2 separate regions of the Homo sapiens genome follow, and region 1 is linked to region 2. Evidence: fine-mapped expression QTL. A gene starts in region 2. The other region holds a variant in brackets. All regions are shown on one strand. Distances are between the middles of the regions.

Region 1 (5,387 bases), 26 kb before region 2:
ATAATGTTCATCTCAGAAAACACGGTGTACAAAGCTGTCTGTGAAAACAGAAAAACTTGGTTCGTGATATGTTCTATTGTCAATGCTTTCAATGTCGTTTTAGAATAAGTAAAATCTTCTTCACGAATGCTTTCAATTATTGTTAAATTGTAAATATTGAGATATTCCACAGGTTTGGGCCAAAGAAATTGAAAGACTCTGACCAGGCATTTCCAAGTCGTTTCTATGTGGTTGAGGGTAAAATTCAGTAAGGTTGAACCTCTGGTGAGTTCTGATAAAAATTTAATGAAAACTTGACAGTTGTCATCATTCAATTTAATATTAGTCAGTTGTAAGCACCCTAAAGTATTAACTGATATGTTCACTTGGATAGCGAATAAACTAGTTGGGTGAAAAACAAGGTGAAGGGTTTTTGCATTCAGAATTTGTAGACTTTCTGTCTCATTTTCTTTTATATAATAATTTCTTAAATCCAGAAGGATATAACTTAGATGCAAGTGAGCAATTGGCAGCAAATCTAATTTTTGCAGCTTCATAGCACTCAATCCCAAGAAATTCAGTTGTGATAAGTTGCCAAATTCCTTACAGATGGGCAGGGCCTTGAAATCATTGAATGAGAGATCTAAATGCCTGAAACTCACAATAGGATGGCAGGATATCTTTTGCAACTGATTATGAGATAAATCCAAATATTCTAAATCCTGGTTGAACTTGAAAACACTTAAATCAAGTAGCTGGATTCTGTTATGGGAAAGTCTCAAAACTGTCAACTCTGATAGAAAGCTCATGTCAGAGACCTGAAGCTCAGCGATGTAGTTCTGAGACATATCTAAGACTTTGGTTTTCAGCGGTAGGTCTTTTGGAACATGAATAAGACCTCTTTTTGACTTGTCTACTGCAAATTCATTTCCGTCGGAGAACTGGATTCTGGTTCCAACTATTATGATCATAAGGCAAACAAAATGGAAGCTTTTAACAATAGGTTCTTTGTCTTTGGTCATGATGTTGCAGTGGCTATCCTAAAGGGTTGTTCTTCTTCAGAGCATCTTGATATGAGTCCAAATTCTAGAAATATAATATACACTAAGATTAATAAAGATCGGATGGTTACTCTCAAACCTCCACTTACTAACCATAAAATCTAAATGATTTCTTCATTCACTAGTAGAGTCATTTCTGTCCCCATAATTTAATGTAATACTTTTTATAACCAGTTATATAGCTTGCTCATGCCAGAAGGGGCAATATAGGCCTTGTTATCAAAGAATTGTGGTTGTGTGTTTTGACCTGTCTGGTTGCTGCCTGAGGGATTCACACTCAGGGGCTTGCCTTTGTTTTGTACACCTTAGAACTTTCTCAGGGCTGGAACAGCCTTCTGGCTGGTGTTTGCTGTAAACAATTAAAGGCAAACATACTAGCTGCAGCCACCTGAGCAAGGGCTAACAGAGGGGGCAAGCAGCAGACACATCAAAAAGTCTGGGAAATATGCAAAGATATATGGAGAAAGATATGTGGGAGAAAAAAGGCTGAGGAAATCTCTGTATATACCAGGGAGTCCAGAAGTCCACTCACGTGCCCAAGGCTGGACGCATGTTCAGAGGAGACCTGAGAAAATCCTAAACTTCACCTCTGGCTCATCTTTAGCTTCCATGCATGCAGAAAGTGAAGGCTAAAGCAGAGCTGTGAATAGACTGGCTAAGCATTGAGAAAGTGATCCAACACAGCCAACCTGCAAAGATCAGGGGTGTTTTTGTTTTTGCTTTTGCTAGTTTATTTGGTTTTTGTTTTTGCTCCAGATGTTTAAAGAAATCTCAAGTTACTGGCTGACCACTAAGCTAACTGGACAGAAAATGTAATAGCCACACATGACAAAGAATAATCTTTATAAAAATTATTTAGAAAAGTCATTAAACAAGCAACTATAAGCCACAAGAAGCAACAATACACCCTGGGAAAGGGAGGCCCGGCACAGTGGCTTAAGCCTATAGTCCCAGAACTTGGGGAGGGCAAGGCAGGTGGATTGCTTGAGTCCAGGAGTTCAAAGCCAGCCTGCGCAACATAGTGAAACTCCATCTCTACAAAAAATACAAAACTTAGCTGGGCATGGTGGCGTGTGCCTATAGTCCCAGCTACTTGGGAGGCTGAGTGGGAGGATTGTTTGGGGCCGAGGAAGTCGAGGCTCCAATGAGCTGTGATTACACCACTGCACTCCAGCCTGGGTGACAGAATGAGACCCTGTCAAAAAATAAATAAATAAATAAATAAAACACCTCTGGGAAAGGGGGACAGAATTTGATTTCTAGAGTTACCTCATTGTAGTGTTTAAAATGTCTGATTTAAAAAAATAAAAATCAAAACAAAATAATCACTAGCCCCCAGATTTGCCAGTGGACTTGCTCTACGTTTTGCCCTGAAATAACACAAACCTTGCAAAAAGCAAATGGAAAGAGATTGTTATCTTTTTGATTGTGTAACTTGGCATTAAAGGAATCTCTAATTTATTTGTTTAAAAAAATTAGCCATGCAAAGAAACAGAAAGTATTGTTCATTCACAGGAAAAAAAAAAAAAAGAAATTAAAAGAACAAAGCCAGATAACTGACACCACCTAACATTGAGACTTGCTACAAAGCTACAGCAATCAAGGCAGTGTGGTTTTGGTGAAAGAATAGACAAATAGGTCAAATGACCAGAATACAGAGCTTAGAAATAGACCCACAAAAAAATAATCAACTGCTGTTTGACAAACGAGCAAAGGCAACTCAGTGGAGAATGGATAGTCTTTTCAACAAATGGTGCTGGAACAATTAGACCTCCACATGCAAAAAAAAAAAAAGAAGAAGAAGAGAAAGAATTTAGACGCAGACCTTACAGTTTTCACAAAAATCAGCTCAAAATTAACCATAGACCTAAATGTATAATGCAAAACTATAAAATTTCCAGAAGATAACATAGGAGAAAATCTAGGTGACTTTGGATTTGGTG[A/G]TGACTTTTGAGATACGCATCAAAAACATAATCCAAGAAAGAAAACACTGTTAAGTTGGACTTCATTAAAATTAAAATTTTTGCTTTGCAAAAGACACTGCAAGAGAGTGAAAAAGACAAACCACAGACTCAGAGAAGATATTTGCAAAACCCATATATGATAGGGACTTGTATCCAAACTATGCAAAGAACTCTTAAGCTCCACAATAAGAAAACAAACAACCTAGTTTTTAAATGGGCACAAAAATCTAAACAGACACCTCACCAAAGAAGATATGTAAAGAGCAAATACACATATACATAGCTATTTGACATCATATTTCATCATGGTTTTGCAGATTAATACAGCAATGAAATTACATTACACTTATGAGAATGGGTAAAATCCAAAAACAACATCAAATGTTGGTGAGGATGTGGAGCAACAAGAACTCTCTTTCACTGTTTGTGGGAATGCAAAATGGTGCAGCCACTATGGAATGCAGTTTCTTATAAAACTAAGCATAGTCTTATCACACAATCCAGCAAATCACATTCCTGGGTATTTAACCAAAAGAACTGAAAATTTATGTCCACATAAAAGCCTCCATGTGGATGTTTATAGAAGCTTTATTCATAACTGTCAAACATTGGAAGCAACAAGATATCCCTCAATAGATAAAAATATTAACAAACTGGTACATTCACACAATAAAATACTATTGAACAATTAAAAAATGAGCCGGAGAAGCATTAAAATGGCTGAATAGAGGCACCTAGCCCTCACCCCCTCTGCAAAGAAGGACCAAAACAGTGAGCAGATAATCACACATTGAATGAGCATCTAAGAGAGAACACTGGAATTCAGCGGAGAAGTGACAGTGCACCTCTGAGGCATGGGAGAAGAGGGAAGTGAAGCAGCCAGCCCAGCTGGGACTAGCTCAGAACCAGGAGGAACTTCCCATTCCAGGGAAAGTTTAACTGAGAGATCTTCAGAGGTCAATGTTTCCACTATGGACTCCTGTAATCCTAGCCATGAGCTAGCTCCTTGGCCTTCACATGCCCTGGGGCTGTCTGGAATATATGCAATCACATTGTTCCACAATGGGACTTCACATTGGGTCCCACATACCCCATACCCTGAGACCCAAACAGCTTCAGCATAAGGCTCTTTTAAGAGCCCAGCCCTCACCATACACATCCTGTTCTGGGGCCCAACAACCCTGAATCTCCACACCCCTGAAGCCCCACTGATATTCTCCTACGTCCACCTAGAGGGCTACAGCATTGTAATGCCAGCTAAGATCAGCAGTGCAGCTAGGTCCCCAGCACTCTAGCCCATGCAATGCCCCGCATCCCAGGAAACAGGAAGCACAGTGCACCTAGTGGCTTTCCCTGGGACAAAGGGAGTCAAAGTGTGCATTCCCCAGAGCCTCAGAGTTACCTGCCCAGGGCCACCGCCACTTACAGCAACCCCATCTTCCCTAGCAGCAGGACTACGACACATCTACACATGCCTCCAAGGGGCCTGAGGACAGGTCCACCATGCCCTTTGCTGCTAGTGCCTGCCTGCCACTGCCATGGCAGGGCAGTGCCACACAGGGTGTGGCACATGCATGCCACACGGGGTCCTGAGGACTGGCTTGCCCAGCCTGCTGCTGCCTGTGTCTACCACTTGGGGGCCAGAGGGTTGGTCCACTTTTCCTACTGCTACAGTTAATGCCACACAAATTGTGCAGGGGCCCAAGAACCTGCCCTCCCACTTGGTCCATTACTGCCACTGCAAGCATCCAACTAAATCTCCTGGAGGCTCAAGGACCCATCACCACGAGTGCCCACATATTTCACACAGGGGCCTGAGAACCGGCAAGCCTAGGCCACTGCTGCCACCACTGTTGCCTGAGAACAGGCCTGCCTGGTGTCCCCATCCCCAGCAAAGCCTTGCCATAGTGTCTGCTGACAACTGTAACCTAAGCCACTGAGGAACCCAAATGCCACTGACACTGATGACAGGTGAAGAAATCATACAGAAACTACACTGCTGTGCCCACTCAGAATCAAAGCCAAAGCACCCTATACTCAACTAACACTATAAAAACACCTAGAGGCAAAAGTCTTTCCCTATCAAAGCCAATCCATAAAATTGGAAGCAGCAGCTATTACATCAGATCCATAGATATCAACATAAGGACACAAGAAATACAAAAGTGCAAGGAAACATGAAGCCTCCAAAGGAACACAATAATTCTCTAATAACAGATCTCAACAAAAAGAAAATCTATAAAATGCCTGAAAAGTAATTCAAAATAATGATACTAAAGAAACTCAGTGAGTTACAAGAGAGCATAGATAAATAATAAAAGAAATCAGAAAAATAATTTATGATCTGAGTCAGAAATTCAACAAAGAAATAGATATTAAAAAT
Region 2 (5,387 bases):
CTACTTAGGCAGGAATGAAAAATTAGTACAAGCTTTCTAAAGGGTAATTTGGTAATTTACATAAATTTCTTAAAAATATACCTTCCTTTATTTTAGCAATTCCACTACAAGGAATTTTCTAAAGAAATAGTCAAAAATAACACACAGAAGATATGACTATAAGGATACTCATGACATAATGAAATATTGAAAAAATCAGAATGTCTAGTGTAGAAAATGATTAAATCAGTTATGTATAATTAAATAATAGCCTCAAATACTGTACTTTGAAAAAATGATAATGTTAAATGAATACAGTAATAGAAAATTATGGCCGGGCGCAGTGGCTCACGCCTCTCATCCCAGCACTTTGGGAGGCCAAGGCGGGTGGATCACGAGGTCAGGAGATCGAGACCATCCTGGCTAACGGTGAAACCCCGTCTCTACTAAAAAAAAATACAAAAAAATTAGCCGGGCGTGGTGGCGGGCGCCTGTAGTCCCAGCTACTCGGGAGGCTGAGGCAGGAGAATGGCGTGAACCCGGGAGGCGGAGCTTGCAGTGAGCCGAGATCGTGCCGCTGCACTCCAGCCTGGGCGACAGAGCAAGACTCCGTCTCAAAAAAAAAAAAAAAAAATTATATATGTAGTAAGACTCTAATTTTGCAAAATATGATTAAAACCTGACATATACGTAAAAGCTAGAGGACAAACAATGTGATGAAATATACCAAATACTAATAATAGTGGTTCTCTGAATCTCTGAATTATAGATGAATTTAATTTTCTTTCTTATACTTTCAGATATCCCTAAAATGTCTCATTTTGAATGTCCTTTATAATCCAAAAAAGTTATCGTAAGGCAATTTAAGAGTTGTCTTTATAGCTGTGTGAAAATATTTTATATTTAAAGAAACGTGCTTGTTTTATTTGGAATATTAAAATATAAAGATGGAGAACTTTCAGATAATAGTAGATAACTGGCATTCACAGATGAGGACCTACCCTACAGGTCCCCGGCAACCAGACCCACGGTGTCTGGGTTCATGGGACTGAAAATCAGTCACCAGGTGGAAAAGCTGGTCAGCTGTCCTTATGGTATCCTGCCACAAAAACGCAATATTCCTCCAGAGGCGTTCATACCCTGAGGCAGTTCCTAGGGAATACACTAAATGAACAAGATAGTAACTTTTCTATTTATTGGGAAAAAAGGAGGGAAAAATGGGAAGATGAGAGTGGAAGATTAGAGAGTTCACAGTTTTTTAAAGAAAGTAAAAATAAACAGGTAAATGCTCTTGATTTTTTAAATGCATCAAATAAAAAGGGTGAGGAAATAGATGAAATAAGCTACATTTCAGAAAAAAAGGGTAGACAAGACCTATGAAAATTAAAACTACAAGGAAGAAGAGAGCAGAAAAAAAATTAAGTGAAATAAGTGGAGGAAAGATCACATAATCAAGTTAACAAATAGGCAAGAAAAACATTGTTTCATTTGTCAAACTGAAGGTGGAAGGACCTGGAGGAAGGCAATTGCTACACTGTGCCAGATTCAAGCTTGTGAAGGGGCTTGGTCCCGGCCACTTCCTCCATTTAATAAATGTTTATTCAGAGTCTATTTTTCTGCCAGTGCCATGCTACGCACTAGGCACCAGGGATATAAATATGAATAGGACTGACATAATTCCTGCTTTCAAAAAGCTTATGAATTAGGGACAGACACAGACCAGCAAACTGTTACAGTGACAAACGACAAGGGAGATCAAACACACGTCTGCTGTAAAAACATATAATAAATAGGTGCCATATCAGTGGTATATAAAAATTACTGTTAAATGTTACTGAAAACAATAAACTAGAGAAAGACGAAAAGAGAAAATTCGCTGGGCCAAATCAGAAGAAATAAATAACATTAGTTTTGTTCCTTAATTATCACCACAAGCGCTAGTTGTTTTCTATCTTTTCAAGACAGCTGTAAAGACGCTGCTCTTCATCCTGCTCGTGAAATTCAAAGGACATTTGCAACATCTACAAAAAAAACCACTTCAAATCATTTTGCAAAAATTTCAAGGAAACATTACCTATTTCCTATATAATGAATGGTTAGCAAACTTGCTTACTTGAAGCACCTGTGCCATAATGTGAAAAAGCCACAGAAGTCTTTCTACTTACCAAGATCTCTTTTTCAGAAGAAGAGAAAATAACTTGTAAATGAACGGAAATACAATTGAAAATGCTTGACAAACACAAGTTCTTAAAGTTGAGTAAAGCGGTACCTTAGAAACAGATTGGTGCCATCTGTTGGCCCACACTGGAATTACTCCTACGTATATTTTTACCTTTCAAAGGTCCGGAGGTGAGTTAGCAGTTTTTTCTGGGCTACAGACAAAACCAGTAATCCAATTTTCTAATTCGTGTGAGGAAGCAACTTACAAACAATTCAATGTGAAGAAAAATATTTTTCTAAGGTAATATTTCTCTGTAAGAGTTTGCAGCCTGGTTATTACATTTGTCACCTGAGTGGAAAGTTATTTTAAACAGCCTGTTTTCTATTATCACCATATTTAACATTTCAAGAATAATTGCAGTTTCCCTTATCAAGCAATTTTGAGCATTATTTTAGCTGGATGAGATAGTTTAAAATAAAATAAGTATAGTTCCACAATTTGGGTTTTTTTTTAAAAATCAACTTCTAAGGAAAGTTTACTGGTTGATACATATTTATGACTACATATTTAGCCATATGTACGAGCAATCATACCCACATTCTGATCAACATTTGGTGTTATTAAATGGTTTAGATTTTAATTTAGGAATAATAAATAACACTGAAATCCTGCAAGACTAATTTAAAAATCAATTTTCTAAAGACCATTTAGAAGAATTTCAGAATGACATCAACAAAGGCTGATTACCAGAAGTCTCTGGTTAAACAGAGACTTCTGGTGGACAGTAAACCCTTTTCCCCAGACTTCTTGCTTAACTGAGTTCTGCAAAGGACAGAAGGCATGAGTGAAACAATCATTCTATAATTTATCTCACTGTCTGGCACAATCTCATCTTTATTAAAAAAAAAACAACAACAAGTTAAGACCTTACAATTTGGCTAATGACAAAGTTGGACATCTCCGTAAGAATCACTTCTGCTTTCAGGAGGAAGAGAAAGGCTGGCTTCTTGTGATTCATCCTTACTCATCAAACATAACAGGAAGTCTCCTCAGGCCTGGGGAGGCTCAGTAAGGAGTGGATGGATCTCTGCTCCACTGGCAAAAGGAGACAGCCAGAAAGCAGCAGGTATCTGTGACCCTGGAAAACCAGATTTGTGAAACAAGCCAAGGGAAAGGGCTGGCTGTGGCTCTGAGGGAATTTCAAGTAACCGTGGACTAAAGTCTTAAGAAAACAGACAACTATCACTGCAGATCTGGGCACATTGACATGTCTCATTAGGAGATTGCATCACAACACCAATGTTCAGAAACAAGGAGACTATTCTTGTCGAGGCTGTCATAACTCAGAAACGTCTGTAAGGGGATGACAAAAACACAAAAATCAAGTAATAGCGAAGATGGCAATGACAGTTAAGCAAACAAAGAAACAGACAGTACTGGGCCGAACCTCCACTTGGCCACTTACTGTGAGGCTTGGGACAAGTCCCTTAACCTCCATTTATTCATCCACAAAATGGGAGTACTTTTAGGAAAGATAATGAATTTAAAGTGGCTGGAATAGTGACTGACACAGAAGAGAAGTCATAATAGTAAGGAGTTTGGTGCAAATCATATAGTTTTTTTGTATGCTGAGGGGTAAAGATTTCAGGATATACTATGAAGTGAAGAAAATCAAGGTGCAGGCTGGGCACGATGTCTCATGCCTGTAATCCCAGCACTTCGGGAGGCCGAGGTGGGTAGATCACCAGAGGTCAGGAGTTCGAGACCGGCTTGGCTAACATGGCGAAACCCTGTCTCTACTAAAAATACAAACATTAGCTGGGTATGGTGGCAGGCAACTGTACTCCCAGCTACTCGGGAGGCTGAAGCAGGAGAATCATTGGAACCCAGGAGGCAGAGGTAGCAGAGAGCTGAGATTGTGCCACTGCACTTCAGCCTGGGCAACAGAGTGAGACTCTGGCTCAAAAGAAAAAAGAAAGAAAGAAAGAGAGAGAGAGAGAGGGAGAGAGAGAGAGAGAGGGAGAGAGAGAGAGAGGGAGAGAGAGAGAGAGAGAGAGGGAGAGAGAGAGAGAGAGGAAGAAAGAAAGAAAGAAAGAAAGAAAGAAAGAAAGAAAGAAAGAAAGAAAGAAAGAGAGAAAGAAAGAAAGAAAAGAAAGAAAGAAAATTAAGGTGCAGAACTGTAAGAAGAGTATGACATCAATTGTATAAAATCTAGCCATTTACACAGGTTATCTTCTTGCCAGGCATTGCTGTGACTACTTTCCAAGTATTAACTCATTAAGGTGCTGTGAGATAAGTACTGTCACGTCATCTCCACTTAGCGCAGCTGGGTAATCGTTCCAGCTTGCACTGCTGGTCAGTGGTGGGGGTGGGATTCGAACCCAGGCAGTTTGGCCCCAGTGCCTATGCACTTAAGCATCATACTATGCTGCCTTAGAAGACACCCTGTGTCCTCATAAGACACACAGAGAAGAGAGATACAGAGAAGCAGAGCATTTGCAAACAGAGGCAGAGACTGGGGTATTGCAGTCACAATGCAAGGGATGTCTGGAGCCACCAGAGGCTGGAGAGAGCATCACCCTATGAACAGCTTGATTTTGAACTTCTAGCCTCCAGAACTCTGAGAGAATGAATTTTTGTTGTTTTAAGCCACACAGTCTGTGGTGATTTGTCATGGTAGCCACAGGAAACTTAATACAAGGGTCTACATACATATGTTGATAGAGGCATATGAATCTTTTTTTCTCAAAAGATACATAAGAAATGTTCACCTTTGAGCAGAAGAACTAAGAGAAATAGATTATTGGCCTTTTTTTTTTTTTTTTTGAGACAGGGTCTCGCTCTGTTGCCCAGGGTGGAGTGCAGTGGCGTGATCACAGCTCACTGCAGCCTTGACTTTCCCCACTCAGGCGATTCTCCCACCTCAGCCTCCCAAGGATCTGAGACCACAGGCATCCACCACCATGCATGGCTAATTTTTATATTTTTTTGCAGAGACAGGGTTTTGCCATGTCGCTCAGGCTGGTCTGGAATTCCTGGGCTCAAACAATCCGCCCACCTCAGCCTCCCAAAGTGCTGGAATTACAGGATTGAGCCACCCCGCCCGGCCTCTTCACCATTTTATGCTTTTTGTCCTATTTGAATTCTTCACTATATATAGATATGTATATATGTCTTAATTTTTAAAAAATAGTGTCACACTGGGTTAAGTATTATAAACATAATCTGAGGCCACCCAATACACTGT

Direction of the effects. Alleles are on the strand shown, and positions count from the first base shown. SD is a standard deviation of normalised expression in the study named.
With allele G in place of A in region 1, the expression in monocytes after LPS of the gene that starts at base 2,201 in region 2 is higher (large effect, 0.88 SD a copy in Quach 2016).

The links. PIP is the estimated chance that this variant, and not a neighbour inherited with it, causes the effect.
Region 1: its variant is fine-mapped to the expression of TLR6 in monocytes after LPS (Quach 2016, PIP 0.91).

The regions. Positions count from the first base shown.
Region 1 is chr4:38,828,473-38,833,859 of GRCh38, forward strand. TLR6 (toll like receptor 6) reads right to left here. Exons shown (of 2, transcript NM_006068.5): 2 at 1-1,065. The coding sequence starts at 1,001. Among named protein-coding and RNA genes, the nearest start is that of TLR6, 26 kb to the right of the region's middle. RefSeq lists an enhancer at 2,995-3,164. The variant A/G (reference allele first, on the strand shown) is at 2,984.
Region 2 is chr4:38,854,617-38,860,003 of GRCh38, forward strand. It overlaps TLR6 (toll like receptor 6), which reads right to left and starts at 2,201. Exons shown (of 2, transcript NM_006068.5): 1 at 2,145-2,201. RefSeq lists an enhancer at 2,650-3,849.